Regions from separate parts of the Homo sapiens genome. Here region 1 is linked to region 2. The links come from fine-mapping of genetic effects on gene expression. A gene starts in region 2. The other region holds a variant in brackets. All regions are shown on one strand. Distances are from middle to middle.

Region 1 (15,872 bases), 25 kb after region 2:
TCCTGCCTCAGCCTCCCGAGTAGCTGGGATTACAGGCATGCACCACCATGCCTGGCTAATTTTGTACTTTTAGTAGAGACGAGGTTTCTCCATGTTGGTCAGGCTGGTCTCAAACTCCCAACCTCAGGTGATCTGCCTGCCTCGGCCTCCCAAAGTGCTGGGATTACAGGTGTGAGCCACCACACCTGGCCATCATTGGGTCTTTACAACAACCTGTGAGGTAGACAGGGCGGGTGTGTTTTTAAACCTATTTGATAGATGAGGAAACTGAGACTCTAAGAGGCACAGTAACTTGGCCTTGGTTCTGTTATAATATCTGAACCAGGGCTTCTGCCTTGCTCGCCTGATGCCAAGCCTGTGTGCCTTCCCTGTCAGCAAGCAGCATGCTGCTTCTTCAGTTCCACTTCCACCTCCACTAATAGACACATGTGGTGGACCGCCGAGCCGTTCCCAAGAGGAAGGCAAGGGCTGGAGGCAGCGGAAGTGCTGGGAGCCTCCAGACCAGCTGGGATCTGCCTGAAACTGAAAAGAAGTGCTCACTTCTTCCTCTGTAATAACAGACACATTGCCCAATCCTATAGCAAGAACCAGGCTTCTGTTTAGAAAGTGAAGGACCTGGCTGGGCGCAGTGGTTCACGTCTGTAATCCCAGCACTTTGGGAGGCCAAGGCAGGCGGATCACCTGAGGTCAGGAGTTTGAGACCAGCCTGGCCAACATGGCGAAACCCCGTCTCTACTAAAAAGTACAAAAAATTAGCCGGACATGGTGGCATGTGCCTGTAGTCCCAGCTACTCTGGAGGCTGAGGCAGGAGAATCGCTTGAACCCGGGAGGCAGAGGTTGTACTGAGCTGCACTCCACTGCATTCCAGCTTGGGTGACAGAGCAAGACTCCATCTCAAAAAGAAAAGAAAAGATAAGAAAGTGAAGGACGTTTTGTGTCCTAGACCCTTTTTCGAAAGGGAGTTTATCCAGGAATTAGTAGAATTCCTGAACTGGATTCATAAAACTAAGTAGCCTTACTCTGCATTGTCTACAGGGCAAAGTTGTACCCATGTTTCTTTCAGGATGTGCACTGGGTACCTAAAAGGCCAGTGTGACATACCCCACACCTAACAGTATGCATGTCATTTCATATCATTTCTATTTCAGTGCAATTTCTGATGGCTGCTATGTGTCTGACACTGTGCCATGATCTGTAGGAGAAACAAGTGAACAGGGGACAATCTCAGCCTTTAGGAACACAGGGGAGCACTCAAGGCCAAATAAAATCAGTGCCCTCGTGGAGCTTCTCGCAGGGTGTTTGGGAGCAGAGGATGGAGCACCAACTACTAGTTCTGCTCAGTAACACCCTCCATTTGCATAGCACCTAACTGACTTCCAGAGTCTCTGTAGAAACCTTAACTCATCTGGAGTTATCAGGGAGCTGCAAAAGGGTTGGGACTATCGAGCCGGCTTTTGATGACCAAGAAGAATTCCTAGGCCAAGGGAAGCAGGTGAGCCAAGGTGCAGCTTTACTGCGGGGGTCCCACTCCCTGAGGCAGCATTTATCCCATGAGTGTTTGCATGATGAATTAAGGCCCCACAGACCTGCTAGTGGACTCTGTGATGAAAATAGTGTGTGGCCAGGCTCCACATGGGCAACTAGCGACCCCTTGGTGAGATTATGACACCTCTCGCTTCCCCCTGTGTAACCAGGGAAGCTAAGCATGTTTCTTTCACTTCACCCATCTTCCTACATTTTTTCCTTCCTAGTTTCAGAAACAACTCTCCAAGTTCCATTTCCAAGGAAAGTCTTAACCATTTGTCCCTTCTGGCGTACCCTCTTTCATTGAAATCCATGCAGAATATACCAGGTACTCTGTCTTTGTGTGTGTGTGAAGCCATAAAATCTAATGTTACGTGTGCGGTGGTGCTGTGAGGTATGCTTCTCGTGCAAGCGGCTCCCTCAGCCCTGCTGTGGTAAAGACCAAGTATAAATTGTCGCTAACAGGGTTTTCTCATTAGAGTCGTGTGCCTGAGTGTCCCCTGTGAATTATAATGCCTCCAGCCCTCTTGCTGCTCCTCTGCTCTGCCTGTCTTTTGGCTGTTTTGCTTGTCCTGGGGCCCTCCATCAAAGTGTGGACAGGGGAAGGAGAAAGAGCTGAAACCCAAATCTGTTTCCTCTGCACTGGGCCTGCGGTGCCGATGAGAAAATAGATGCAGACACGGGTTGCCACTGGACTGCATTCAAGGTCAGCGCAAGAGAGAGAGACAATGGTTCCTCCTTCTCAGCCTGCTGCCCCGATGGCCAGCACCCCCTCCCTGAGCTCCTGAAGATGAGTGACCCTGTGTTTTATTTCTGCTGAATTTCTCACCATGTTATACATTTGGGCAGCTTTTTTCCTTTTAATTTACCTTGGTGAGGGTGGGTGTTGAGGTGCTGATTTTTTTTTTTTTTTTTTTTTTTTTTTTTTTTTTTTTTTTTTTTTTTTTTTTTTGAGACGGAATCTTGCTCTGTCACCCAGGCTGGAGTGCAATGGCGTGATCTCGGCTCACTGCAACCTCTGCCTCCCAGGTTCAAGCGATTCTCCTGCCTCAGCCTCCCGAGTAGCTGGCACTACAGGCACCCGCCACCACACCCAGCTAATTTTTGTATTTTTAGTAGAGACAGGTTTCACCATGTTGGCCACGATGGTCTCGAACTTCTGACCTCAAGTGATCTGCCTACCTCGGCATCCCAAAGCGCTGGGATTACAGGCGTGAGCCATGGTGCCTAGCCAGATGTTTAATTCTTTCAATTCATAGGGTGTTGCAGTCCCCAGATATATCTTGTGTTTGAAGCTCTTGGCTAGAGTTATATTTTGAGATGCTCTGTGGATTTCTTTTATCTGTGTGTTTATCTGTTCCCCATTCTAAACTATAATTTAAAATGTGCTGTCATCAGATCCCCAAAATGGATGGAAGAATGCGCCTAAATTGAGCTGTCAGGCACTTGGCTGCGTAACCATGCTTTCTGGATTGTGGTGTTGAAAGTGCCATCCTGTGTGCTCTCTCCGGATGGCTGTCACGTACTTGCGTCTGAGAACAGTGTATGGACCTGCATGAGCACTAATCAGTCTTCCTAGCAGACTTGCTCTTTCTCTGGTCGTATGCCGCCAGATCCTCTGAGAAGAGAGTGGGCCTTTCCCCTCAATGGGCAAAGAACCAGCTTCCATTTTAAAAGCTCTCAGAAAAAAAAGAAAGAAAAAAAAAAAAAAACACCAACAACCAAGAGCCTGTGTTTATTGAAGGTTGGTCTAAAAGTCTCTCACATCGTATGCCCCATCAGCACTCGAGTGCCTCTATTTTAGAAGGATGTAAAGGTTTAATCACGCTGGTGGGGATTTAGACCCAGAGACTTCGGAGAAATCTTATTATTTCTAACTGCAGGCAAAGAGTATTAAAGCTCCACTCTGGATCAGGGGCATGACATGTTCTATAAGTAATTTATCTTTAACAGGGAAAGGCCCATACTAGAGTGTCTTAGAAACAGGACTGTGATTGGGCACTGGTTCACTGTTCCTCCTTTTCTCTTTCCTATCTCAGTGTCCTGCTTATTCTTTCCATCCGGACTTTTTCTGCCCAATCTGTGCAGTGTCTGAATGCCTGCCTCACAAATCCTCCTTTTAAGATTGGGAGCCAGGTGCTTGCCAATGAAAGATAATAAGGTTTTTTGCAATAAGTGACCTCATCCAGCAGCCTGGCACAGACCTGTCAACTGCCGACTTCTGAATGGGCACTACCTGCAGCCCTTCCGATGGAGGAGCTATGGGAGGAGAGGATGCCGTAGGCTCCATAGGCACTCAAGTCCGTGCTCTTGGACATGAAGTAATTTGGGGCTATTTTGAACCCCAGCCCTATTGCTACCTTCACAGAGGCTGTCTCCACTCCAGGCCATTTGTGCCCTGTGTGCATCCATAGCGATGTTGCTGAGCCTATGACTCATCTGCATGGTCCCCCACTCCCAACCCCCTTCTTGCCTAGCTCTCTCGGTTTTGCCTTTCTGATGCTGAGGCTGGAGGATGTCACAGGTGGGGTTCTGCCTATGGAGTCATTGTTCTGTTTGGGGAATATGGTTTGACCAGTGGCAGATCTAAATCCACGCGCTAATGAGCTTGGTTAAAGCAGGCTTCCGCTGGCCTCTTTTAATCTAGCCTGCCTGTCTGAGCTCCTTTCCACAGTTAATGATCTCCCATAATGGCTTTGCCTTTAGTTTTTCCTCCTAGGTCAAAACAAATCAATAGTCTTCACAGATATTTAAAAACCATCAGTGTAAACCTCCTGGGTCCTCCCCCACTACCTTTTTTTTTTCCTTCTGGGTAAATTTACAGCTTGATCAGTACAGTGATGTTTCCCTTACATCTCCTCTTATCTCCTAGAGATGGGCAGTAGCGAACCCCTTCCCATCGCAGATGGTGACAGGAGGAGGAAGAAGAAGCGGAGGGGCCGGGCCACTGACTCCTTGCCAGGAAAGTTTGAAGGTTGGTCACACAACTTCCCTATATCTGGGCCTGCAGCTTCCCAAGCATGGGAGGAGCATCCCGGGAGCCACAGGTCCGATCACAGAATGCGTCAAGTTAGAGCCAGATGGTGGTTATCTGTGTGGTAGGGAGATAAGATGGGGATGAGGGAGTTTACACAGGGCATTACAGAAAGAGAGCAGGGATGGAAAAAGCTCTCAGATGATGCACTGGCCTCCTGTGAATGGCTCAGGTACTGCTTCCTTTTCAGGGAGCAGGAAGACCCATCTATCAGTGGCATTGCCTGGGGTCTTCCTTTTTTCAGATGTGATTCTTCCCTCAGCTATTCCTGGAGGGGCTGCTGAGAGATAGAACTATATAAGAGGAAGAGAGAAACACCAAAGGCCATGGCCGCAAATGAAACTTCAGTCTCCTGTAAGCAGAGAATTTGTCTCTCAGATTGTAGCTACTTATGCTGTGTGTGTTTGACTACATTTTAAAGAATACGTGTTGTGTTCAGTAGAAACGATGTTGGGTCATCAGACATTTTTTGACACTCTCTGTGTGCGAGGCACTAGGCTCAGTGTGGGTCCTGTTATCACTGGGCATGTGATGGGGTGATTGGACACTTGTGCAAAGCACCAAGAGGATCAGTAGCTACTCCTAGGAGTAACGTGCCCCACTTCATCTGTTTTGTTTTCTTTCGTTGTGAGGTCTGAAGTAGCTTCGCCTCTTGGTCCCTCCTTCCAGCCTTCCAGACACACTAGTGAATTGGCTGTTCTGTAAAGTGGTTCCAATAACAAGCACTTTATCGGTTGGGAATATGGGACCTCCAGCCACCCACCTATCCTGATATGTGTAAAGGGCTAATGCCAATGTGTCCATTGTGAGAAGCATGTCATTTAAAACACTTACGAATAACAGTGTGCCATCTGCTCTTATAAACAACTGAAAGACCAAACCGTGATGGAACCAAGAAGGTACTTTCAGCAGGGGTTTTTTGTTTGCCTTTAACTCAAACAGCAGGGGTGTGTGTCTGTGTGTGTGTGTCTGTGTGTGTCAGGGTATGGGGATGGGGGAGAGACAAAGATCCCAAGGTATTCAAATAGTTTCCTAATCAACAGCTCTTTTGCTCTTTCAGTTAACACAAGAGAGTACTTCCTATTTTTAAGGACAGCTTGTGCAATGACAGGACTTCTCCTGACTGAGAGTGATAAAATCTAATTCATGGTTGAAATGTCTTCTGCTCAGGCTGTGGGTTTCAATGCTAGGTGCCTCAAGAGGAAAAGGCTGAAGAATGGAGGCCGAGTGGGGATGAGGTCAGGCAGCTAGTGCTGTGATGGAGATGTAGCCTCCTTTGGAAGGGGCTCAAAGAGCTGTGCTCTTTGTGAGCTTGGGCAGGTCATCTAGATGTTCCTTTAACCCAGGTCTATTACTCTGTTAGAACAACTATGACTCAGTACCCTAAAAACCTCAAGGTGTCCTTTGCATCCTACTTCTATTTCCTGTGGGTGACTTCTGGAGACTTCTCAGAAGCCTCCAATGACTTCCATGTATGGGGTATAAAATAGAACAGTGTTTTATTCTCCTTTGTATAGCCAGTGCTTACACAGAACTTGGCACATAATAGGTGCTCAGTAAATGAGTAAATGAATATTCATTCAAATCATACCACTTCTCCTCTGATGATCCTCCAGATTCTCTGACCAATTTTTTTTTTTTTTTTTTTTTTTTTTTTTTGATATGGGGTCTCACTCTGTCACCAGGCTGGAGTGCAGTGGCACGATCTTGGCTCACTACAACCTCCGCCTCTCGGGTTCAAGCGATTCTCCTGCCTCAGCCCCCGAAATAGCTGGGACTTTAGGCGCGTGCCACCACACCCAGCTAATTTTTGTATTTTTAGTAGAGACGGGGTTTCCCACATTGGCCAGGATGGTCTCGATTTCTTCACCTCTTGATCTGCCCACCTCGGCCTCCCAAAGTGCCGGGACTACAGGTGTGAGCCACCATGCCCAGCCTCTCTGAACAGATTTAACCCTTTCTTCCCCCAACTTTTTTTTTTAACTGTACTTTGTCCCTCTGTGATAGTATTTACCAATGCCTGGTTTATTCTGGGGTCACCTGTGTATGTGTCTGTCTTCCCCACTGGACTGCGACCCTTAGAGGAGAGGGATCATGCGTATATATATTTTAGAGATGGGGTCTTGCTATGTTGGCCAGATTGGTTCTGAACTCCTGGCCTCAAGCAATCCTCCTGGCTTGGCCTCCCAAAGTGCTAGGATTACAGGTGTAAGCCCCTGCACCTGGCCTTTATTTTATTCCTTACTCTGTTATGCTGTCTGGCACATAGTAGATATTCAGGAAGTATGTGCCGAATTGAGACCCTTTTGCTAACCTCATCGCTAAAATGAGGAACAGGATGCCTTGTATGTGGTCTTGTTG[TTGA/A]GAAACTGGGTCCTCAGGTGGCTGGGAAAGCTACTTGTCTTCCTTGTCACTGAGTGCTAGAGTCATTGGGTGCCTGTGTCGTCTGATCAGGGAAGCTGAGCCACAAAAGTTCTTCCCATCTGAGCTTGCAGTAGGGTGACTCATCTTGTTATTCCTCTCATCCATTTCACCTCTAGATATGTACAAGCTGACCTCTGAATTGCTTGGAGAGGGAGCCTATGCCAAAGTTCAAGGTGCCGTGAGCCTACAGAATGGCAAAGAGTATGCCGTCAAAGTGAGTGTCTCAGCTGAATGCCAGGCTTTACTTTGCAAATAGTCATTCCTAGCTCATCTTGAACCAAATAAATGTTATATTCCATAAGAATGGGGACTCTGAAGCTGTATTCACTGGATTCAAATCTTGGTTTCTCTACTTACTGTGTACCTCGGGCAAGTTACTTAACTTCTCTGTCCTTCAGTTTTCTCATCTGTAAAATGGGTATAATACTAGAACCTATGTAGAATTGTTGTGAGGATTAAATAAGTTAATATAGGTAAAGTGCTTAGCACAATGCCTGGCTCATAGTAAGTTTCTCATTATTCTGACAAATGAAGTCAGCTTCAGGGAGTGGACAACCAGATTTGGAATTAGAAGGCCTACCTGAATATCTATTTTGACAAACTATAACTGTTTGACTTTGGGCAAGTCATCAAATGTCCGTAAGCCTCAGTTCCTACATCTCTAAATGATGATACCTGCCCTTCAGTCTCCTGAGGCAGTTATGAAGATGAAAATTAAAATATCCTGGGAGAGGTGGAAACACTTTACACGTCACAAAATGCTATCCAAGTGTTAGATGTTAGCATGATAGTGAGGATTAAAAACTAAGGTGACTGATTTGGTAACATCTGAATGATGTCTCAGAAAAAAAAAATTAAAAGAAGAAAACAAAACTAAAGCGACTGAGCACTCAGTTTTGGGGCAGGAGAAGTGGCTTCTGGCCTCATTGCTGCCTTTAATTAGCTGTAAGGCCTTGGAGTGGCTCATGTCACCCCTCTGTGCCTCCACTTGCCCTCTCCACATGGAAGAAGAGCTGGATCTTGAGCAGTGGTTCTCAAAATGTGTGCCCTGGACCAGCCTCAGCATCGCTTGGGAACTTGTTAGAAATAGAAGCTACCTGGCCCTACCTGAGAAGTACCAACTCAGAAACAGGGGTGGGCCCAGCAATACAAATGTTAACAAACTCTCCTGGTGACTCTGACACTCACTAATCCTTGAGGACTACTGTTGTAGGAAGGGCAGTTGTGAATGCTACTATGTGTTAGAAGCCCTTAGAGCTCTAACAAAGCACACACAGATCCAGGTTTCCAGATGTAGGATAGGGTCTGGATCTCTGTGGCTTGACCAGATTCCCCACTTGAGTCTCATAGCCACCAAAGTTTGAGGACTAACTGACCTAGAGAAAGGGTCTTTTTAAATCCAAGCTGATTTCAAATCACCCACCTGAGCCACCAGGTCAAATGCCACCTCACATTGGCAATCCCAGCCCAGTGGGCTCCTGAAGGAAATGTTTTCTCTTCTTTGAACCAACTTTCCACAGTCCCAGCTGCGGGTTAGAAGGTTGAGCAAGTCTGCTAAGCCACGTTCCTTTCAGCTGGAGTATTGCTTCACATGGTAACAAGAGCACTGTCTTAATTTCTTTTGGGAAACAGCTCAGTATAAATTACAAGTGATTTTTAAAACATACGCCTAAGTGTAAATAGAAAAATTAGGCCAGGCATGTGGCTCACACCTGTAATCCCAGCACTTTGGGAGGCTGAGGCGGGCTGATCACCTGAGGTCAGGAATTCAAGACCAGCCTGGCCAACATGGTGAAACCCATCTCTACTAAAAATACAAAAATATTAGCCGGGTGTGGTGCATTCCTGTAATCCCAGCTACCTGGGAGGCTGAGGCAGGAGAATCCCATGAACCCGGGAGGTAGAGGTTGCACAGTGAGCCGAGATCACACCACTGCACTCCAGCCTGGGCGACAGAGCAAGACTCTGTCACAAAAAGAAAAAAAAAATGTTAGCCTGGTGTGGTGGCATGTGCGTCTAATTCCAGCTACCTGGGAGGCTGAAGTGGGAGGATCACTTGAGCCCAGGAGGCAAAGGTTGCAATGAGCCAGGATGGTGCCACTGCACTCCACCCTGGACAACAGAGGGAGACTCTGTCTCAAAAAAAAAAAAAAAAAATTGATATATCTGTCTAAATGCGGTAAAAACCACAAACATAAACTGATTTTCAAAGGTTTCAATACATTTATGGATGAGAGGTATATTTCTTCAAGGTTGGATAATGGGAGGAAAACCTGGCCCTTCCTCCACATCCCCCCTGGCATCTTTGAGGCAAACACTGGACTCTGGCTTGGCAATTCCTTGGTTTCAGCAGTTCTGCCCATGTTTCTTCTCTCCCCTACTCTTTCAAAGCTCCCTAGAGATGGGCTACTTCTCCCAACATGGCCCCACAATACTTAGCTTATTACAGCTTTTCCTATAGGCACCCAGCTGATCCTAGACTCTCAAGGTTGGGATGGAATTTCAAGATAACCCTGAATTTCCTCTGACTCCCCAGATAGTTGTCCATGTTCTGCTCCCCCATCTCTAGTAGCAAGAGCCCATTACTTCCTCAGAGAAGACTGTGCTGTGGAAGGCTTGCCTGCTAGAAAGTTCTTCATGACTTTGATCTGAAATGCTTGGGGAATGAAGTTGAATCACTTCTGTTCCCCAGCACTACACCTCTCCATTCAGATAATGGGCCCACTGTGGTTTACAAACAGACACACTTATTTAGAAAATTGCAGTTGGTCACAGATGTCTGTGCCACATCATATCGGAGAAGTTTGAAGTCTCAATGAAGGAAGAGGATGTCATTGTGCTGCCCACTGTGCACGTTGGAGCTGTAAGGCAGAGCTAGGCTCTGCAGATTTGCTCACAGGCTCGGTGTGCAGTGGTTTGAGGCTCCAGATGGGTCCAGAGAGCTTTGCAGAGGCAGCCAGTCCCTTTGGAAACCACCCTCCCATCTGTTGGCTTATCTGTTCCTTCAGTCAGCATTTGACAAGCATCTCAGGTAAAAGTGTGGAGGGGGAGCAGCCCACCGTATCACAGGAGAGACAAAGCCTCCAGGTCCTCGAAGAAGTTAGAGCATCTAAGCAGGTATGGGATAGCAAGGGCTTAGGAGTCAGCTCTGGACTGCAGGCAAATGTTTCATACCTCCCTATCTTTTGATGTTGTCATAAAGGTCAACTGAGATTATGTAAATAAATTATTATTGTTTATTTATTTATTTATTTATTTATTTTTTGAGATGGAGTCTCTCTGTTACTTAGGCTGGAGTGCAATGGCACAATCTCGGCTCACTGCAACCTCCGCCTCCCCAGTTCAAGTGACTATCCTGCCTCAGCCTCCTGAGTAGCTGGGATTACAAGCACCCACTACCACGCCTGGCTAATTTTTTTGTATTTTCAGTAGAGACGGGGTTTCACCGTGTTGGCCAGGCTGGTCTAGAACTCCTGACCTCAGGTGATCCACCCACCTCAGCCTCCAGAAGTGCTGGGATTACAGGTGTGAGTCACCACACCCGGCCGTAAATAAATCATTTAACACAGTATCTGCCAGAGAGTAAGTTCTCAGAAGAGGAAGAGCCTACTTCTGCCAGGGGGATCGTGGAGGCAGCCTCTGAGCTGGGTGTCAAAGCTTTAGCTCCTCGCCACGGTGTCCTGCATCAGCCTCTCCCTCCAGCATGAGAAGATCCTTCAGTAGATGCAGTAAATGCTTACCCTTAAGGCAGAAAGAGGTGTCCACAGGAGGTGGAGCTGAGTAAGGTAGCTCTTTGTCTTGCCGGCTGCCTCAGTCTCCCCTGGGCAGCTGGGGGCAGCAGCCTCATTCACTTCCTTGGTGTTGTGCTTGGCCAGAGTGGAATGGGCTCAGCTGAGCTGGAAAGCCCTGAGGCCAGTCTGCTGCTTTGCCAACAGAGCCACAGTGCCGGTGTCACCAAGGCCTAGGCCAGACTTCTGCTGGACACTGGATTTGGACTGAGTGTGGCCTTGCATTCTCCCAGAGGACTCCTGCCAAAGGGCTGTTTGGAAGTCAGGTGGGTGTACATGACAGATTTTATTCTTCCCACAGATCATCGAGAAACAAGCAGGGCACAGTCGGAGTAGGGTGTTTCGAGAGGTGGAGACGCTGTATCAGTGTCAGGGAAACAAGTGAGTATCATGTGATTCTCGCTGCTTCTCTGGGGGGACGCTTGGCCACAGAAGAGGAGGCTATTTCTTACCATCTCCTGACTCCAGCATTTAGCTCTCACTCCTGTCCCCACAAGGCAGGTACCTCCTTCCGCCCCTTTCAGTGTTAGGGAGAGAAAGGAAAAGCAGCAGTAACAGCAAAGGAGCTATTATCTCTTCTGAAATACTGTAAATATCATCAATTCAAGCAAGTTAGAAGAATGAACTATCTGAATCAGTGGTTGTTGGGGGGAAATGGGGTTTTATTTCTTTCGGTACCTGTGGAAACTAGGTTGACTGAGTGTTGCCTGGTAGAAATCTTTAAGGACTTGCCTTAATACCAAGATGAGGAGAACTGTTAAGAATATTTGCTGCTGTTTCTGCTCCTAGAATGTTTACATATGTGCAGATACCACTAAGATCCTGGAACCTTCCAGATAGCTGGGTCCGGCTCATCTCTAGCCCCAGTTCATTCTGCCCACCACCAGCTCCAAATGAGCAGCTCTCCCACTGTGGCTTTAAATCAGGGGCACCTCTAAGACTCCACTTCCCCCTCTCTCCCTCCACGGTAGGGTCAGCAGGGAGCCAGTGGCCTGGTATTGATGGCTTTGTCATTAAGCTTGGAGGATTGGAGGACGGGGGCTGCTGTTGATTTAACTCCAGGCACTGCCTCCACAATCTTCTTTCAAATTAGGCCATTTTGCCCATCTTATTTGGATGCCTTCACACTAGTAAAAGCCTCATATCTCCCAAAGTAGTCAGCATTTTTTTTATGAGGGACAGATTTTTATTTTCAGCCCTGCAGCTTCTTAGTTCAGCATTAGAGACTCTACTTGGTTTATTTTATTTTGTAAAAGAAAAAAAGCCCACAACACCTCCAATATCCAGGCTGGTGGCTTCCCTACTGAGTTACAAGACGACCTTGTTGGCAGAGCACTGAAATACTCGGGCAGACAGAGAGTGCTCACCGGGGAAGGCCACAAGTGCTACAGTGGCCAGGAACGCGGCCGTTTCATTAAGCAGCGCTTAGCAGTTAGGGTCTAGCGGTGCCCATGTTAGGCCCCAAGTCCATTTGACAGATGTTTCCATTTTCTCCAGGCAATGTAAATACTGCCCCGTGATTTATGGGCAAGAGGGAGGGCAAGTAATTATTTGCTGCTTGCCTCCAGGACACACACCTAGTATTCAGTGTTATTAGCCGCAATTGCTTCCAGTCGGCTGCAGATTTTATTCAGTTTAATGTGACCGGGACTTTTTTATAACTCTACCTAGTGGGTTTTAGGGCTGGGGTTTGACAGCACAGACTTGGTGAAAACACCAGAGACTAAACATTATGGAAAGATAAGGTGACCTGAATCTTGCTAACACCATTGGCTGCTTCCATACGCGGGTCTTTAATAAGCATTCTGATTTCAAGTTGGTTTCTGCCCCACTACCAGGTGTTGTATATTTTTTTCATTGTATATTTGTAAGTAGACTTTAATATATAATACCATTTCCCCCCTTTTCCCTCTCCTCCTATTTTCCCTATTTAAGGAACATTTTGGAGCTGATTGAGTTCTTTGAAGATGACACAAGGTTTTACTTGGTCTTTGAGAAATTGCAAGGAGGTACTTACCGTTGAGTATGTGTGTGGACTTCTGATTAAGACCCAGGGTGGTGATCATCCATCATGAATCCCAGAGACTTCCAAAACGAGTCAAGCTAATAAAAAGGATGAAGGACTTAAAAACTGCCCTTGATTTGGGAGAAGGGAGGCCGGAGGGAAGGATGATAATTAGCATTTTGCAGAGCTTAGAATGTCACCTGTGTGGGTATTTTATAAATGCCTTTTCATTATAATAGGAGTCATATATAGATACATTTAGTCATCGATTTATCAATCCCGTTTTGACATGTTCACTGTTTAACTACATTAATTATGGGGTGGAAGCTCTCAAATACATTGCGAAGTCTAGAAAGGCTAAAACAGAGGAGAGGAGGGTCCTATTGTTTGGGACACAGACCCAGGATAAAGGGGAAGCCTGAGAATGTGCCATCCTTCAGATGGAAAGATGCCATCACCCACACACATAATCACTGGGGTGTATACTTAAGTTGCTTTTCTGACATAATGAGGTGGGGTAGAGAAACCCTTTCCCTTCCCATCACTCCCCCAATCTTAGGACACACTTGCAGGGATGTCTGGAACTGCATGGAGGGCCACACGGAGGGGCTTGGTGGTTGAGGGAGCGTGCTTTAGAAACCAACACAGCTAAAGCTTATGTTATGTCTAGCTGCATCACTTACTAGCCATGTGATCTTGGGCAAGTCACTTAACCTTTTCTAAACAATATTCCCTTCTATAAAATAGAGATATTGATAGCACCTACCTCACTGGGTTGCTGTGAAGATTAAATGAGATAATTCATGTGAAATGCTTAGGACAGTGTCTGGTAGGCACTAAGGGCCCAATAAATGTTGGCTGCTAATATTATTAAAACAATTTGGTATGCTGGGGGATGTCTTAGAAGTATGTAGAGTAGACCAGGTACAGTGGCTCACGCCTATAATCCCAGCACTTTGGGATGCCAAGGTGGGCAGATCACTTGAGGTCAGGAGTTCAAGACCAGCCTGGCCAACATGGTGAAACCCGGCTCTACTAAAAATACAAAAATTAGCTGGGTGTGCTGGCACATGCCTGTAATCCCAGCTACTCAGGAGGCTGAGGCAGAAGAATCGCTTGAACCTGGGAGGCAGAGGTTGCAGTGAGCCGAGATCGCACCACTACACTCCAGCCTGGGCAACAGAGTGAGACTCTGTCTCAAAAAAAAAAAAAAAAAAGTATGTAAAGCATTATTCTCTGCTTTTCCTTTTAACAGATTTGGAAACGAGGCTCACTACAGCAGAGCAAGCTAGGACCTAGTCATGAGCCGGTTTTCTGGGAATGTTCCCTAGCACATTGGGATCCGTTGTTTAATCTGGCAAGCGAACAATCTTTGGCAGTTCTTCCCCTTCTCTCATGCCCTCCCCATCCCCCCTAAAAAACAGTAGACATGTGCCATTTTTAGGACAGAGAGATAATACCTTCAGCCCAGAAATGCTGGCTTCTAGTAGTAAACATAAACCACATGAAGCCAAGCCACATGTTCCTGCCTGTGTCTGCCCCTGCACCACCCAATAACACATGACTGACTGTTAATTACATGTTTGAAATGCTACATGCAGATGGGATCCTCTGTCGCCATATCAGTAAACTTAATGTAGCTTATTGAGGCCAGACCCAGTGTGGTTGGCTCAAGAGAGTCCATCCCTGCAGCAGTCAGACCACAAGTCCTGCTGGGGGATGTCTGCACAGACTCGGAGGCCTGACTGACGCCCTGGGCCTAAGTCCTGGCCTCACCCCTTACTGGTGCGTAATCTTGGGCAAGTTGCTCAACCATTTTTCTTTTTGGCTTCAGGATCTCCCTCTGTAAAACGAGAATAAGTGTACTACCCATTTTGTCCAATTGTGGTGAGAATAAGACAGTTTATTTCAAGAGTATTCCATAGCACATGGCACTAGTAACTACTCAGTAAATGTTAGCCATTGCCAACAAAACAATAATGAATGGGAAAGCTCAGGCGGAAAACCCATTTTTCCCCCCTTTTCCCAGGCCTTTACATGTCTGGCAAGGGTGTGGCATTTCCATTTGAAAGTTTGTGCTCTTGTTTGGATCAGAGATCAGATGCAGGGGAGAAAACGTTGCTGCAGAAAGGCCCCCTCAGCTCCAAGTGCCTTCAGTTTTATTCCTTTTGATTGCAGAAGCCAAATCAGCCTCAGCATCATTAGTGTTTTTTGGCCCTATTTATAGTTGTTCTCTCTCGCTTCTGAGCTCCTCATAGACAGGTACAGAAGAGAGTAGTCCAGTTTTGTTTAACAGACATACAAGCTGGTACCTCCTCCGTACCAGGCCCCACACTTGGAGCTGGACAGGTAGTGATGAGTCAGCGATGAATCCCTATGTCCCCACCCCAAGTTTTCCAAACTTGGGAAAACTTGGCCTCTAAGAAGTTATACGGCCAGGCGCAGTGGCTCACGCCTGTAATCCCAACAGTTTGGGAGGCTGAGGCAGGCGGATCACTTGGTCGGGAGTTCGAGACCAGCCTGACCAACATGGTGAAACCCCATCTCTACTAAAAAAAAAAAGTACAAAAATTAGCTGGACATGGTGGTGCCTGCCTGTAATCCCAGCTACTCAGGAGGCTGAGACAGGAGAATCGCTTGAACCCGGAGGCGGAGGTTGCAGTGAGCCGAGATCGTGCCACTACTCTCCAGCCTGGGTAACAGAGTGAGACTTCGTCTAAAAAAAAAACTTATACTTACTAGAGCCCAAAAAGGCATTCTTCTATGTCCCCTCTGCTCCCCAGGTTCCATCTTAGCCCACATCCAGAAGCAAAAGCACTTCAATGAGCGAGAAGCCAGCCGAGTGGTGCGGGACGTTGCTGCTGCCCTTGACTTCCTGCATACCAAAGGTGAACCCAGCCTTTGCCTTGGTGGGTGGGTTGGGCTGGCCAGCCTCTGGGTACCAAGGGAGGTGGTAGGCCAGGCAGAGGGCTGGTGCAGGAGATGGTGTGGCTGGAAGGCAGCTTGAGGTGTGAACATGCTCACCCATGGGAGTTGAGGGAGAAACAGTCCAGGATGGCTCCTAGGCTTATGCTGCGGATGGTGGGTGGGTGGTGA
Region 2 (15,872 bases):
TCAACCGCATCAACCTCATCTACGGCACTATGGCGGAGCGCTGCAGTGAGACCAGCTGCCCGGTCATGGCCGGCGGGCCCCGCTACGAGTACCGCTGGCAGGACGAGCGCCAGTACCGGCGGCCCGCCAAGCTCTCTGCGCCGCGCTATATGGCATTGCTCATGGACTGGATCGAAGGCCTCATCAACGACGAAGAGGTCTTTCCCACGCGTGTTGGTGAGTGTCACCTGGCGGGGAGGGAGCCACTGGGAGCCCATTCCACAGATGAGGATTTAGTTTGATATAGACACTCTGCAGGGTTGGGGGTTGATTTTCATCCCCATTTTGTGGAAGAGGAAAGCGAGGTTGAAACAGGTTAAGTGCCTTGCTCAAGGTCAAGCATTTGCTAGGACTTCCTGACTCCCAATTTGGGGCTTTTCTTTCTTTTCTTTTTCTTTCTTTCTTTCTTTTTTTTTTTTTTTCTTTTCTGAGACAGAGTTTCGGTCTTTCACCCAGTGGTGAGATCTCAGCTTACTGCAACCTCTGCCCCCCGGGTTCAAGCGATTCTCCTGCCTCAGCCTTCTGAGTAGCTGGGATTATAGGCACCCACCACCACGCCTGGCTAATTTTTGTATTTTTAGTAGAGACAGGGTTTCACCACATTGGCCAGGCTGATCTCGAACACCTGACCTCAGGTGATCCACCCACCTCAGAGGGCTTTTCTTTTCTAAAGCATAAGTGGTCCCACCAAGGACCACTCTGGCAAGACCACAGATGCTGTGATTCTCAGAACCTTCCAGAACAGTTGCCCCGAGGTGTTCATAGCTGATTTGACCTCCAGCCTCCCGGGGTTCCCTCTGACTCCTGGCCTCAGGAAAAGGAGGGAGTTGGTGGTTGGGTGGGCCCTGGTGGTATCATCACCTCAGATTGGGGCTCTGAGGACAGAATTTTCCCTTGCCAGGCACAGGCTGTGGGGCCTTTTCTTATCTCAGCTGGGCAGCCTGGGCGGGTGAGGGTAGGGAGGGGAGATGAGTGATGTCACCCAGGCACTGCTTACCCACCCGAGGGCAGCAGGAGGGGGTTGTTGGTCCAGGAGCTGAGCAGGCATGACACTGTGTTCATCACACCAGCCGCACCTGTAGCTGGGCCCAGCCCCCACCTGGCCTGGAGCTCATCTCTGCAGAGGCTGTGTGGATCAGCGGTGGGTGGGGCAGGGTGGTCAAGCCCTGAGGGGAGAAGTCTGAATGCTGAAGGAAGCTGGGCACTGAGTCACAATTCAATGCCCACGGCTCCTCCCCAGCCAGTGGCCTGCTGTTTCTTGCACTGTCATGCCCGACAAGGAGCACCTTCATTTTACATAGGAGGAAACTTGAGGCTACTGAGGGAAAGTGCACTGAACTGGGAGGAATTCCGAACTGGGGCTCAGATCTGTGGGAGCCCAGGACCCCAAGTCTACATGGGCAGGATATGTCTGAGGAATCTGGGCTGGGCTGGAGGGGCTCAGAGGGAGGGAAGGCTCGACCCCACCTGGGAATGGTGAGGAAGAGGAGGGGGTCTACAGAGCCGGGTGGGCCAGCTGTGGACCTGAATGTAGATTCATAGTCCCTGCTGGCCATACCTCCCTGGGCCTGTGGGACTCCAGGTATCGATGCCTAAAACCCTGGGTGACTGCCACACAGAGAAGAGGGCATAAGCCACCAAGATCTCTGCCTTGAGCATGGGGGACTATGCAGAAGCGGGGCCTTTTTCATGGGTCCCAATATCTGTGAGGGTCGCTGCAGTGCACTGCAAAGAGGGTCTGAATCCAGTCTCCATTCTGCACTGATTAATACTTATGTGGCCTTGGGCTAGCAGCTTCACCTTTATAAGCACTTCTGTTTTATCATATCTAAAGTGACAATCAGACACATCAGGCGAATTGTTCTAAGGATTAGAGGCAAAAGGTGTGAAGGGCCCAGCACAAGGCCTTGCTCATAAATGGAAGGTTCTTCGTGTTGTTGAATATTTGAAGGAATGAGGGCTGTCTGAACTAACTCTTGCAGAATTCATAATTTCCAGGATTGGGGGTCTGAGGACTTCTGTGTGAATGTTGAAAAGAGGAGGGACATGGGGTGGGGCTAGAGAGGGAGGTCAGGATAAGATCATGAAAGGCCTTGAGCAGCGTCCTGCTGGAAAGTTAGGACTTAATCCTGAAGGCCCAGGGATTTTTTAAATGGACCCAGTTGTTGAACTCTCCTTGGAGTTGTATACAAGAGTGTGATGTGAGCATCTCTGCAATTGCACATATTTCTGGGGAGAGTTTAGGTCGTAACTTTTATCATAGTCTAAAAAGGGTTGGTCAGTGACCCCCACAAGTTTGCAAAGCCCTGCTTTAGGTAATGGGAAAATGTGGAAGATGATGTATATTCCAGCAGGGGAGAGCCACAGTCAGATTTGTGCTTCATTAGAAAGAAAAGTATGGCCAGGCACAGTGGCTCATGCCTGTAATCCCAGCATTTAGGAGGACGAGGCAGGTGGATCACCTGAGGTCAGGAGTTCAAGACCAGCCTGACCAACATGGAGAAACCCTGTCTCTACTAAAAATACAAAATTAGCTGGGCATGATGGCACATGTCTGTAATCCCAGCTACTTGGGAGGCTGAGGCAGGAGAATACCTTGAACCTGGGAGGTGGAGGTTGCAGTGAGCCGAGATCATGCCATTGCACTTGCCTGGGCAAGAGTGAAACTCCGTCTCAAAAAGGAAAGAAAAAAAGAAAGGAAGAAAGAAAGAAAAGTATGGGAGAAAGTCAAACCACTCTCTGTTTTCCAAAGGGAAGTGTACTAAAAAGTGTGCTGGGGAAAAAGCCATCCTGGTTGCCTGTGTGTGGGAGGGAAAAGTTGAGCAGAGCTTTGGCACCAGGATACTGATCCCCTTCTGCCCTCCCCTGCCCTCTAGGAGTTCCCTTCCCTAAGAACTTCCAGCAGGTCTGCACCAAGATCCTGACCCGCCTCTTCCGAGTCTTTGTCCATGTCTACATCCACCACTTCGATAGCATCCTCAGCATGGGGGCAGAGGCGCACGTCAACACCTGCTACAAGCACTTCTACTACTTCATCCGCGAGTTCAGTCTGGTGGACCAGCGGGAGCTGGAGCCACTGGTGAGGCCAAGCCCTACCACCCTCCCCTACCAAGGCTAGCCTCTGAGTTTTCACGTCCAAAAGCTGCCTGCTTTAAGTAACTCCAACGCCCAAGTAGATGAATTAGGGGAAGGCAATTCATTTAACAGTGAATTCTGTACTTCAATAGAGAATTCATTCAAGTGTTGGTTTACAAACCCAGATCTGCAGCCTAAGAGTTGGGGTTGCTGGGGGAAGGCCAGGCTCAGACAGAAGAGCAGCTAGGCCCTATGGTTTGGGAAGGGATTGCCTAGTAGGCTGAGCTCTAATTGACCCCTCCCTACCTTGTGTCTCTACAGAGGGAGATGACAGAGCGGATCTGCCACTGAGCCCAGGTCTGGACTTTTTTGGCCATCAGATGGACGATCTGAACATAGGGTGGCTGGCAGAGGGGACCCCCAGGAGCCTGAAGGAATCTGAAGGCACTGGAATCACTCCACACACCCAAAGCCTCTGGACTTCTGGTTCTCAGGAGTCTGCCTACCTGTCGCCCTGACCGCTTGTGGATGGAGAAGGGGAGAGCATCTAGGCAGGCAAACAGAAGGGAAGTGGAGTTAAACCTCTGGCATGAAGTCTGGGAGTAGGGTAGGCTAGGGGGTTTCTTCTATGACACTTGACCCTTCCATGCTGGTTCCCAAGCCTATTGGAGGAATGTGGGTGTGGCCGAGGTGATGGCAAGAAAGGTGCAAGAAAGTGAGCAGTCTGCCTGTGAGTGAGCACAGATGCCGGGGTGTGTGTGTGTGTGTGTGATTTTCACTGTGGGGTGTGTCTGTGAGAGCTAGCTGCCTTACCCCTCCTTGGCACATAGTAGGCCTTCCATAAATGTTGGATGGATGGATAAATAGATTGGGACCATCAGACCATGGGACCATCAGACCATGACCACTGTAGGAGTGATGACAGCTCAGCGTCCCCACTCAGTGTATCTGACCATGTGTGTAAGTGCACAAAAATGTGGTTGTAGATGTTGCTCTACATTCAAACCTTCCAGGCTACACTCTTCCATCAGCATGAGTCCTGGAGAGCTGGGGGAACGTAGGAAGAGGAGCCTTGCCTTGAGTTCCTAAACCGACCCACTGCAGACACAGGCTCTGATTCTCTTACCCAGAGATGCCCATGAGCTGACATTTTACTCATCCCTCTGCCTCCAAGAAGGCCTGTATTATACGTGTCCTCCTGGGGGTTGGAGATGATCCCTCAAGTACACAAAGGTCCCCTGGCCCTTCATCTGGGAATCATATACTCCACTCTAGCTCCCAGAATCTACAGACCTGGCTCCTCGGATCTGAAGCCCAGCACAAAATAATCTCCCCGTCCAAGGAGCTTGTGGAACTTGAATTGGGAACTTTGGAGTCTTGTCTCCCATCCCAGCACATTGAGGATGTAGTTGGTGAATGGACTCTTCCAGGCATGGAGATCCTCCATCCTAAAAGTACCTGCCTCCTTCCCAGCCATCCCTGACACATTCCAGCCAGTTGGATCTCACAGCACAGCTATCCACAGGGAGACTGGGATGTTCACGCAGCACTCCATTACTCAGTACCTCCATACCCAGCCCTATACGCAGACCCACAGGTGGGGAAACTGAGGCAGGAACAGGGTTCTGCCCTCCCAGAGCCTCCACTCTGGGATGCCAGAATGGAAAGCCAGAGGGAACCTGAGAATCATCCAGTCTTACTGTCTCAATGTACATACGGGGAAACTGAAGCCAGGAGAAGAAGAGGGAGAAACTGTCCAGGGCCTCACAGGGAGGCATTCATGGAGCTGGAGAAACCAGGGATCCTGACCGCAGGGCCCATCAATTGCTACATAGAGATACACATGGAAAGAGGGTTTAACAGACCCTCTCTAGGACACAACTGTTTCTGCTTTGAGCAATAATTTCTAACCTGAGGCCAACATGTCCCACTGCCCCTTGGGTTGGCTGGGGTTGTTTCCTGAGCCAAGCATCCAATATCATGCCCCACTCAATGGCCTAGAAGCTGCCTGTACTTTGGGGAAACAGATGGAGCTCTTGGGCCCAGCCAGCTGGGCCTGGGACTTCTGCCTCTGCCGCCTCCAGAGTGGCCTGGCAGCTTTGCCAGAGGCTGTGGAGCGAGGGTAGTAGGAGCTTTTCCCAGAGTGCTGTGACTTGCATGATGGATTCTAGGCTGTGGCAAGGGCTGATTTCTGGGATAGGGGGAGGGTTGGAAAATTTATTTTTATGAAACAGAGGGAAGACTTTATTGTTGTTATTTTTGGTAAAATAAAAGGCAAACTAAAGCAGCCACTGGTGGGAAGCGGTGATCTGGGTGCCACATGGCTCTTGGCAGACCATGGAAGGAACTGAGCCAGAATGGGGCTGGGAAGGCTTTTTGTCCTGAGATACTGGACCATGTGGAGGGCTGGCTGGTGTGGTCATGTCTGGCCCAGCTCTCTAGGGTGGGGACACAAAGATTCTCCTGGGGCTCTGGAAATTCTAGACCGAGCTAGGCTAGGACGCTTGGGGTGGAGAAGCCTGGCTTTTCTTTGCCTTCCGGGAACTCAGTCTGATAGGAATCGTTCCTTGTTTCATCTCAGGTTGCCTGGCATTGGCTATTCTTTTTTTTCTTTTTCTTTTTTTTTTTTTTTTTGAGATGGAGTCTTGCTCTGTCACCCAGGTTGGAGTGCAGTGGCGCGATCTTGGCTCACTGCAAGCTCCGCCTCCTGGGTTCATGCCATTCTCCTGCCTCAGCCTCCGGAGTAGCTGGGACTACAGGCACCCACCACCACGCCCAGCTAATTTTTTTGTATTTTTAGTAGAAACGGGGTTTCACCGCGTTAGCCAGGATGGTCTCGATCTCCTGACCTCGTGATCTACCCGCCTCGGCCTCCCAAAGTGCTGGGATTACAGGCATGAGCCACCACGCCTGGCCTGGCATTGGCTATTCTCACTCCAGCCCCTTACTCTGGGTGGTTTTTTTTTGAGGTAGTAGATAAAAGGACAGAGTGGAAATACAATCCCAACACTAATTACAGGACAGGAGGCCATCCTGAAGAGGAAGATACTTGTTGCTGGCTGGAGCTACGGTGGGGGTGGCAGGACATGGGCCTGACTCCTGAGCTTACTCCCCAGTAGACATCTGCATCTATTGGCTCAGGTCTTGCTGTCATTCCACTGCCCCAACTCACAAGCTGCCTGGGCAGGAATTAAAAAGCAGCTTGGTTCTTAAGAGTCAACAAAGGCCCATCTAGAGCTCTTCCCTCTTCCTGCAAAGGAGCCAGCCTGGCTTTGTGCAGAGGCTCTCCTGGGAGGCAAAGGCATAGGTTGTAGCCCCAGCCCAGCTCCTGAAGTTCCATTGCAAGCCCATTCCCCCTCTAGACCCCAACCCTTCATCTATTTTGTTATCAGTGATGGGAGTGAAGGACTGATTGATCTCAGCTCCTTCATTATATAGTCTATGAATCATTCACAGTCATCATAACAGCTAATGTTCATTATGTGTCAGGTACACTTCTAAGTGCTTGACATATAATAGCTTGTTGAATCAAGTGTGTCTTTGGCCAGCTGCCTTGCTTCCCTTCCAGCCCCCAATATCCCTGCCTTTAGTCACTCCTCTAGAATCTGGAAGGCCCTCCATTCTGCTGCCTCTTCCTCTGGCTCACCACAGGAGGCCCAATCCCAGCATTCTAAAAGGGTGCTATTTGCACACCTCCTATAACAGATCGCTCACTACCTCCTCTGTCATTGGACAGCTCAGACTGTTACAAGTCCCATGCTTTGGGTTCATGGTCATTTTGAAATATGACCATGGCAGTGAGAGTAGATTTATCTTAGAACTGTGTGACCCAAGACCTGCACCTTACATGAGAATATCTGTAAATACATTAGGAAGCTGACACAAAATTGCTTTGAGAGATTCACAGAGGGATGCTTAAAGAAGAATAGACAGAAAGGAAGAGAAGGGGAAAAGAAAGAGATAGGGCCTCAATGATGCAGATAAAAGAGCACACTCCCATGGGGCAAAACCTAGTAACAAAGGGTCCTGGGAGGTAGAGTGGCAGCTTGGTTGAGAAGTCAGGCTGGGCTTTATTTTCCTGTTGGCTCAAGGTCCATAACAAAGCTGGGCATAGTGGCTCTTCCCTGTAATCCCAGCACTTTGGGAGGCCAAGGTGGGAGGATCATTGAGCTCAGGAGTTCGAGACCAGCCTGGGCAACATGGCAAAACCCTGCCTCTAAAAAAATTCAAAAATTAGCCAGTCATGGTAGTGCATGCCTGTAATCCCAGCTACTCAGGAGGCTGAAGCAGGAGGATCACTTGAGCCCAAGCAGAGGTTGCAGTGAGCAAAGCTGGTGCCACTGCACTCCAGCCTGGGGAACACAGTGAGACCTTGTCTCAGAAAAAAAAAAAGAAAAAAAATTCCAAAACAATATTTGGAGCAGGGACCTAGGTAGTAAGCCATCCTCTCCAGCCTGGGGCAGAGCATCCACCTATTGAGTAAAGGATGCCGCATCACCCTCGGCTCCCATAAACACTGCAGCCTCTGAGGTTTCCTGTTGCCTCTCCTCCCTACCCCACAGCAAGCTGTGGAATATGTGGTGAAATAAGCCACAGTCATGACTAGAGCTCCACCTGCTTTGGGGGAGCCCTCCTTCCTCTGAGCACCCCCAGAGCCCTCAAAGATGTTAACTGAATTTGATTGCCATGTGAGGGACATAGCAACTTTGAGAACCTGGAACATAGGTCCTGAATCTCTTGGGCTATTGCCACAGGCAACAGGGAAGGGAACAGGCCAGCAGGGCCTCTGAAGACTTGAAGCTTGGATCGGCCTCCACGGAAGGTAATGAGTGGGAGAAGTCAGGATACATCGGGGCCCTCAGGTTGGACCGCAGGATTCCAGAAGGGAATGAACACAGAAGCTTGATCTTCCGCCTCTCCGGCCTTCACCCAGATTGGGAAATCTAGCAAAGTCCTGAATGTTCACTAATATTCCCAATCTCCTTCCATCATACAGATGAAAAGACAGCCCCGACAAGACAGGGAACAAATGTTTGTCAGGTGGATGATGGGAAGCAAGTCCCTGGGGCTCTTTAACTAGCTTGGCTTACCAAATCCTCACGATAATCCTGAGACAGGCAGGGAAGGGATGTTCACCTCCATCACTCGGAGTCAGCGCCTGAATTAAATCCCAGTCCACACTCTCATCCTTTCTCATCGCAGCTGCAGACTTGGGAAGGGGATGTGGGGAGACTGGTTGAGGCATTAACCTATTTACAGTTGTTTTTCCCCAAGAAATGAACTTTTAAAAGTTTTAAAAATTTTGAAATACTGGGGATAATGTTGTACTCAAGGAGAAACTCTTATGGTGAAATTCTAGGCACTCAGACTTTTAAAGAAATTGTACAGAATTGGCCCCCGTTTTAGAAAAGACTAGCAGCATTTCCCCACATATAAAAGGCATTTTAAAATTCCTTCCTGGCCTGCAGAAGCTCTCAGTACATGTTAATTACACCTGTCGCGCCCGGCCTCCTACCTTCCCGGGCTTCTCCACCCTCCATTCGGAAAAGAAAGCGCCGGAGGAGCTAAGCCCCACCCGCTTGCCAGCAATCTCCCCTCTCCCCGCCTCTTCCCTGTCACGCCTGCGCAGTTCGCTCAGCTCGAGCCCCCTGCCCTCAGGCGGCCCTGGGTAGCCATCAGGGCGCAGGCGCAGCTCCGCCCCCTCACCCTCCTCTCTGATCGGGCCCACCCCCTGGATCTAGCACCGCCTCTTCCGCGTTCTCGGAGGAGCGATCTGCAGGTAGGGGTGCGCGCGACCGCTCCCCGGCGGGAGCCAGCGAAGGTAAAAGCGAGACCTGCGAGGTATTCCTCCGAGCTAAATGGGGCCGGGGTCTGTGAGTGAGCTCGTGTGCCCGGAAGGGGGCAGTCAGGGCCTTCACGGCTGCCCGAGGTCACGACGCGATTCAGCTGCGGAGGGACAGCCTAAGGGGACGCTTTTCAGGACTGTCCCGAGCTGTCTGCGACCTCTGTGCCTGGGGTCGGGGCGTGGCCGGTGTCCGAGATGGCGCTTACTCTGTGGCCCGTTTGAGACTCAGTCTCTCCCAGGGATCAGGACCGAGGCTATGGCTGGGCGCAGGGCTCAGGCAGTCCAGTATCATGAATAGTTTTTCACGTGAGGAATTTGTGAAATCTGTGTACTGCGTTATTTTTAAGTTAATTGTTTTCATTTATTTTCAGTATTTAAAGGCTCCTGCCTGTGTGGATGGCTGTCCACAGGGAAAGGTAATAAGAGTGTCAGGTGCACCCTGTCTTCTAGAGAGCTCCAAGCTCCCTGACAGTGGCAGATCAGAGGCAGGCAGGCTCACAGGAATGAAGTGTTGTTAGAAGTGCTCAACTTCAGGGTCAGGGAGTCCTGGGTTTAGATCTCATCTCTTCCACCTCTTAGCTGTGTGTCCTGGGGCAAGTCTGCTTCCCCTCCCAGAGCTTCACTTTCTTCCCTAGGAAATGGCCATAATAGGGTCATTGTGAAGGGTGAATAGGATTATATGGAAGTCACCTAGTATGGCGCCTGTCATGTAATGGGTGCTGAATACATGGTAGCTGTGATTTCTAGGAGCTTGGTCATTTTGGATTGGGGTACTTTAGAAAGGCTCTGAGAGAAGAGTTGTTGTGACCTGGGCCTTGAAGCCTCAGTGGGATTTACAGATGGAACTGACCCTGCAGAATGGGAAGGGCACCACTGCCCATGCGCCAGGCACATGCTGGACAGTAGGTGTAATGTCTCACTGGATCACCACCCATCAGCCAGGTGCTTTCAGCCCACTCTCCTTAGCTTCAGCCCTTCATTAGAGGGCTGGGCTGGAAGTGATGTGAAGAGGAAATCCAGGGTTGGGTTTTATATGGAACTGAGCCAGCTAGAGGCTTTGGTGCCCCCTCTGCCCATCTGCTCCCACCTCAACACTTCTCTCTCTGTAATCCAGAGAGTTGGTTAGGAGTCCTGTTACTCTGGTATTTTGCAGATGTTGACAGTTGTGGGGGATGGCAACTCAGATTGCATGAAGCGAAGCCATGGGAGAGGGAAGCTCTGTGAACAGGAGCTGTCAGAGCCCAGCACGTGCTTAGAAAGTGCATGTGGTCTCCTGTAATGTGGTCCCAGAGTAATTGAATTACTTAGTTCCTTTTGCATCCTCTTCATGGGTGCCCTTGTGCTCTTCCTGAGACACTACTCGGAAACCTTGGTGGGCATCATTGCCTACTATATAGAGCAGTGGTGTCCAATCTTTTGGCTTCCCTGGGCCACATTGGAAGAAGAAGAACCATCTTGGGCCACACATAAAATACACTAACATTAACAATAGCTGATGAGCTTTAAAAAAATTGCAAAAAAATCTCAGTGTTTTAAGAACGTTTATGAATTTGTGTTGGACCACATTCAGAGCCATCCAGGGCCGCGGGTTGGACAAGCTGGATGTAGAGTTTGGACTCCAGCCTCAGACAAGTTCCTGCACAATTTGTTCCCACACCTCTCCCCTCCCTGTTTCCCTTGGTTTTCCCAAACCTGCAACCTGTGCTTCAGTCAAAATAAACTAGTTGTCTCTGTTTCTCCTTTTTTTTTGAGATGGAGTCTCACTTTGTCACCCAGGCTGGAGTGCAGTGGCACAATCTCGGCTCACTGCAACCTCCACTTCCCAGGTTCAAGTGATTCTCCTGCCTCAGCCTCCTGAGTAGCTGGAATTACAGGCATGAGCCACCACACCCGGCTAATTTTTGTATTTTTAGTAGAGACGGGGTTTCGCCATGTTGGCCAGGCTGGATTCAAACTTCTGACCTCAGGTGATCCGCCTGCCTGGGCCTCCCAAAGTGCTGGTACTACAGATGTGAGCCAACGTGCCCGGCCAAATCTCTGTTTCTCAAACACTCCCTGCATGTTCCTGCTCGAGCCTTTGCTTATATTCTCTCTTCCTGGATTTCCCTCCTCCTCCTCATCTTTCAAGGCTTACATCTCTTACATCTCATGTGGCCTCCATGGTGAAGCTTTTCTGAGCCTTCTGCTGGATTAGTTGTTCCCCTTTCCATCTTCTGTAGCAAAGGCTGACCCTCTAATATAGCTCTCATCATAGTCTGCCTAGGGATATGTACACTCCATATGTACTCTGAGTACGTGGGTGGCAAGGGACCATGTCTCTTTCCTTCCTCCTCTGTCCAGCATAGGGCCAGCACATAGTAGGCCTCTTCAGTGTTTGTGGTTAAGTGAGTCAGTGACATTTTTTATTTACTAGGTTTGGCCCTTGTTTTATGAGCTGTCAGGTTCAGAATGGGACTTTGTGTTTTTCCTCCTCTTTGTGCCTAAGGAGGGCCCCAGTTTAGACTGATGCCCTAATTACAGGCATCAAAAACAAGAAAGTACAAGAATTCTGCACAAGCAGGCATTCTTCATTGCAGCCATTGTTTTCAGGCTCTTGTCTTGCCTTGACCGTGAGTTTTGTTGGAAGGTAGGTAATGCTGTGTTCAGAGACCTGCACTGGGTGTATTAATAGTACAGTTCAAACAGGGGAAAGCTCACAGGTGGTTTTCTAATCAGTTTACTCTGCCCTTGGCCTTGGGAAACAGTGGTTCCTCCCATCTGGGGACCAGCAGCTATAAATGCACATTTTCCCTTGCCAACAGCCTCAGCATGTGGAAGAGAAAGTTATTTCTTGATCAGAGAAAAATTTACATGGTTGAAGGTAGAAGGAGCTTGGAAACCAACCATCTGGTTCCGCCACTTTCATTTTATAGATGGGGAAAGGACTTGATTGAGATTACACAAGGAGGCCGGTGTGTGGCTCACGCCTGTAATCCCAGCACTTTGGGAGGCCGAGGCAGGTGGATCACCTGAGGTCAGAAGTTCGAGACCAGCCTGACCAACATGGTGAAACCCCATCTCTACTAAAAATACAAAAATTAGCTGTGCATGGTGGTGGGTGCCTGTAATCCCAACTATTTGGGAGGCTGAGGCAGGAGAATCGCTTGAACCCAGAAGGCAGAGGTTGCAGTGAGCTGAAATTGTGCCATTGCACTCCAGCCTGGGCGACAGAGTGAGACTCTGTCTCAAAAAAAAAAAAAGATTACACAAGGAATCAGTCAGTAGTGGAGATAGTTCTAGAAGTGAAATGTCATGACTCTGTTTTTTCAGTCTACTACGTTGTTAATACAACATCGAACATTTATTGCACACTTGCTGTGTTCCAGACACTGTTTTTAAAAGTGTTTTTAACTCTGTGTTATAGCTTGGAAACTAAGGCAGATCATTCAGATCTATTTTCCAATTCCACAACTCTGGGTTTTAGTGTGGTTTTAATGGCAGTCACCTCCTACCCAGTGGGGTGGAACAGTTCTCCAAAGAGCTTGCTCCCAGATCTCCGTGAGTGAGAAGTGTTGTCCCAGCAATGTCTCCTTATATGCTGGAGAGAGATCCCAAGAAGAGTCCAGAGTGTATTGGAAGAATGGATGAAGGAATGAAACAAGCCCACATGAGTATTAGCGGATCTTAGTTTAGGAATATTCATGTACTTCAAAAATTGCCTATTTATCAAGTTAGGCAGTAAATGCAGTTTTAGAATGAACTCAGTCTGGGATCTTTCTGTAAAGATTCCCAGTATAGGATGGAAAGATTCAATTCGGTAAGCACATATTGAGCTCTTGCTATGTACAAGACCCTGGTATTGAGAAATATACACAGAGGAAAACAACACATTTCCTGCCCTCCTATAAATAATTGTCTTCTCAGAACCTTCTCCCTCCAGTGTAGTTGGGAAGATAGATAAGTACATAAATAACTGAAATCAGACTGACTATGGTAAATGTAGTAAGGAATGTAAACAAAGTGGGAGTTTGGAAGAAGGAGAAATCAATCCCAGCATGACCAGAGGATTCCTGAAGGTGGAGAATTTATGCTGGGCCTTGGAGGGAGTTTATTCCTGGGAGAAGGAACAGCTTGAGCAACAGTTGAGAGGCAGAAATGCTCAGGTGTAGGGGTGTGTGTGTGTGTGTTGTGGGAGGGGAGAGGAGTTGGTGAGGAGAAGAAGTAAGCCGAATTGGCAGATTTTGGCTAAAATGTAGAGAGTGGAGTAGGGAGCAGAACACTAGCATTTATAAAGTGTCTCCTTTGCTTTGTGGCTTGCAGTATGCTGGTTGCTTTACATACTATATTTAATCCTGTAATATAGGCCTATTTATCTCCAATCTAAAGATGAGGAAACCAGACCTCAGAAAGATTAAAGTGACTTCCCCAAGGTTAGATAGATAGTAAGGGCACAGCTTGGTTCAAAACTAGCAGTGCTGAGTTCAAAGGCCCATGTTATCTTCCTTATGCTAGAGGCTCCAAATGCCCTGACTGGCGCTCGGTTTTCTCTGGCAGCAGGACGGAGGTTAGACTGGAGCAAAGATGGTCCCAGAATGGGGACATCAGTGAAGAGGCTTAAACGGTGAATCACTGGCCTAGTTTGGAAGCTGCATGGACTAGGTCTGCTTGATAGGTTTAATAGGTGATCATTTTGGCAGCACCCACAGTGCCATAAATCAGTGCATTGCCATCCTTAGCTAGTAGAATCTTAGAACCAGTTTACAGAAGCTGCAGGACCCTGGTATTTCAGGCATGGGTTCTGATGGGAGATTGACGTTACAAAAGGGTCTGTCGGGGGAGGCAGCCTGTTTGGCACATCCTGTCTCTTCATTTTCTCACCCTCAAATTCAACAAGAGTCTGTAAGTAGGACAGAGCACTAACTTGGAGTGCAGAGGCTGGCATTCAAGTCCTGCACCTGCTCATTATCATCTGAGAGTCCTCAGTCTGTTTCTTTCCTTTGTATTTGCTGTCAGATTATTCCCTCCTGCAGCCAGTTATGGTTCACAGAGTCGTTGGGTTGCTTTCCAGAGCCACAGCTGATCTGGGGAAGCCATATCAGAAGCGGGAATAACAGTTACTAGTTATTGGGTGCCTACTGTATGCCAGGCACTGATGCCATGAGCTCCATATACATTAGCTCACTTAATTCTCATGACAACTCTGTGATGTGGGTGTAATTGCCCCCATTTTATAGATGCTGATAATCAGAGGAGTATTTTGGTTCACTTCTGAGGCCTCAACTCTTGCTAATGTCCTGGCTTGGGACTGTATGAGGAAGAACTGAGAATATAAACAGGATTCAGAGAGACTAGAGTTTATATTCCAGCCTCTCATCCTTACAGAGAGACAGTAGTTAGGTATGTGGACTCTAGAGTCAGGCTATCTGGGTTTGAGTCCTGGCTCTGTCACTTGCTACCTGTGTGACTTGGGCAAGTTATTTAATCTTCCTGAGTTTCTGTTCCTTCATCTGTAAAATGAGAATACAAATATTACTTACCTCATGGGGTTGTTATGAGAATTGAGATACAACAGCACAGTGCCTGGCACACAGTAGGTGCTCAATGAATGTGAGCTTTAATAGTAATAATATTAATAAATATATGAATGCCCAGTTTGGTACTGTTTTTATAGAAAGTATATTTATTAGGGCCATTTTCCCTTCCCCCGCATTGTTACCTTCTCTTTCTTTCCATTGCCCTGTCAGGAACCTTTGAGATACTAGATTGTTCCAGCACATGGTTGCAATGCATAACATGGCAGAAAGTGCCTGTAGGAAATGGGTCAATAAAAATCAGTGGCTCGTTAGAAAATCTTACCTGACTTGTGTTTTCACCTCTCTCCACAGTAAACAGGAACAGAGCAGCACATATATTACTTTTTTCACAGCCTTCAACAAGAGTGCCAAGCAAGACTCCTCCAATTCACTTGCCAAAAGTACAATAACAGTATCTCTGGAAAAGTGGTGCCTAATTTGGTTCTTCTTTCTGTCCAGCTTAAACCCTTCAGGCCTTAACTTAAGCCATTTCTTCTTGTTCCATTTTCCATGAATATGGAAAAGTTTCTTCTGATTTTAAAGGGAGGATGAGATCAAGATTTTCTCATGAGAACCTTTTCTGTACTTAAAGCCAGAATCCAGTTAAACCTCATCTTCTCTTCTCCCGGCTAAACAGCCTTGGTCTCTTTAACCTCACTCTTAAAACCTGTTTTCCATTGCTTGGATCACATTGGTCATGCCTCTTTTCTTTCTCTTCGGTTTTTCTGCTTTGTGGCAGTGACCCAGACTGTACTCGGTCTTCTAATAAGAGTCCAGCTAAAACAGCTTAAGGGAAGAATAACTTCAGCTGTTTCCATCCATTCATTAACAATTATGAAGTGGTTGCCCCATACCAGAGCCTCTGCTAGGTGTAGGGGTCCCAGAGATGAAGGAGACATAGTCTCTACCCTGTCCCTGGCTAACAGTCTAGGGGAAGATGCGTAATAAAATGTTACAGGTAATTTAATTATGCACAAGTGTAGGAAGCTGGGAATTGGTTAGAGCAATCAGGTGGAAATACAGTCCCTTTTGACGAGACTGCAGGTTAAGACTCCCATAGAGGGTTGGTCTGGGACAAGTTGATGGAGGCCGTGAGTGACAGCACAGAAGCTTGGTTACTCCAGAGGCAGTGGACACCCATTAGAAGTTTTAGAGCAAGGAAGTAACAGGTCGAGATCTGGCTTTTTGGACCAAGGGTAGAGATGCCATAAACCTTAGCCTTACCTGTGCCTCACTGATGTTTTCTGTCTTGAAAGTAATGTGATGGATCTTTTGTTTGTATACATGGTGATTTTTTTTTTTTTTTTTGCTCTAAAACGTCTGTAGAAGGTCTAGTTCTTAAGCACTGAAGAAATTTAATT

The links.
Region 1: its variant is fine-mapped to the expression of MKNK1 in whole blood (INTERVAL, PIP above 0.99).

The regions. Positions count from the first base shown.
Region 1 is chr1:46,571,855-46,587,726 of GRCh38, reverse strand. MKNK1 (MAPK interacting serine/threonine kinase 1) reads left to right here. Exons shown (of 13, transcript NM_001135553.4): 3 at 4,398-4,499; 4 at 7,100-7,197; 5 at 11,073-11,152; 6 at 12,707-12,780; 7 at 15,560-15,664. The coding sequence starts at 4,400. Among named protein-coding and RNA genes, the nearest start is that of MKNK1, 24 kb to the left of the region's middle. The variant TTGA/A (reference allele first, on the strand shown) is at 6,921.
Region 2 is chr1:46,597,248-46,613,119 of GRCh38, reverse strand. It overlaps MKNK1 (MAPK interacting serine/threonine kinase 1), which reads left to right and starts at 8,852. Exons shown (of 13, transcript NM_001135553.4): 1 at 8,852-8,935. MOB3C (MOB kinase activator 3C) reads left to right here. Exons shown (of 4, transcript NM_201403.3): 2 at 1-216; 3 at 2,916-3,118; 4 at 3,436-5,401. The coding sequence ends at 3,465. RefSeq lists a silencer at 8,671-8,890 and enhancers at 9,221-9,270, 9,038-9,538.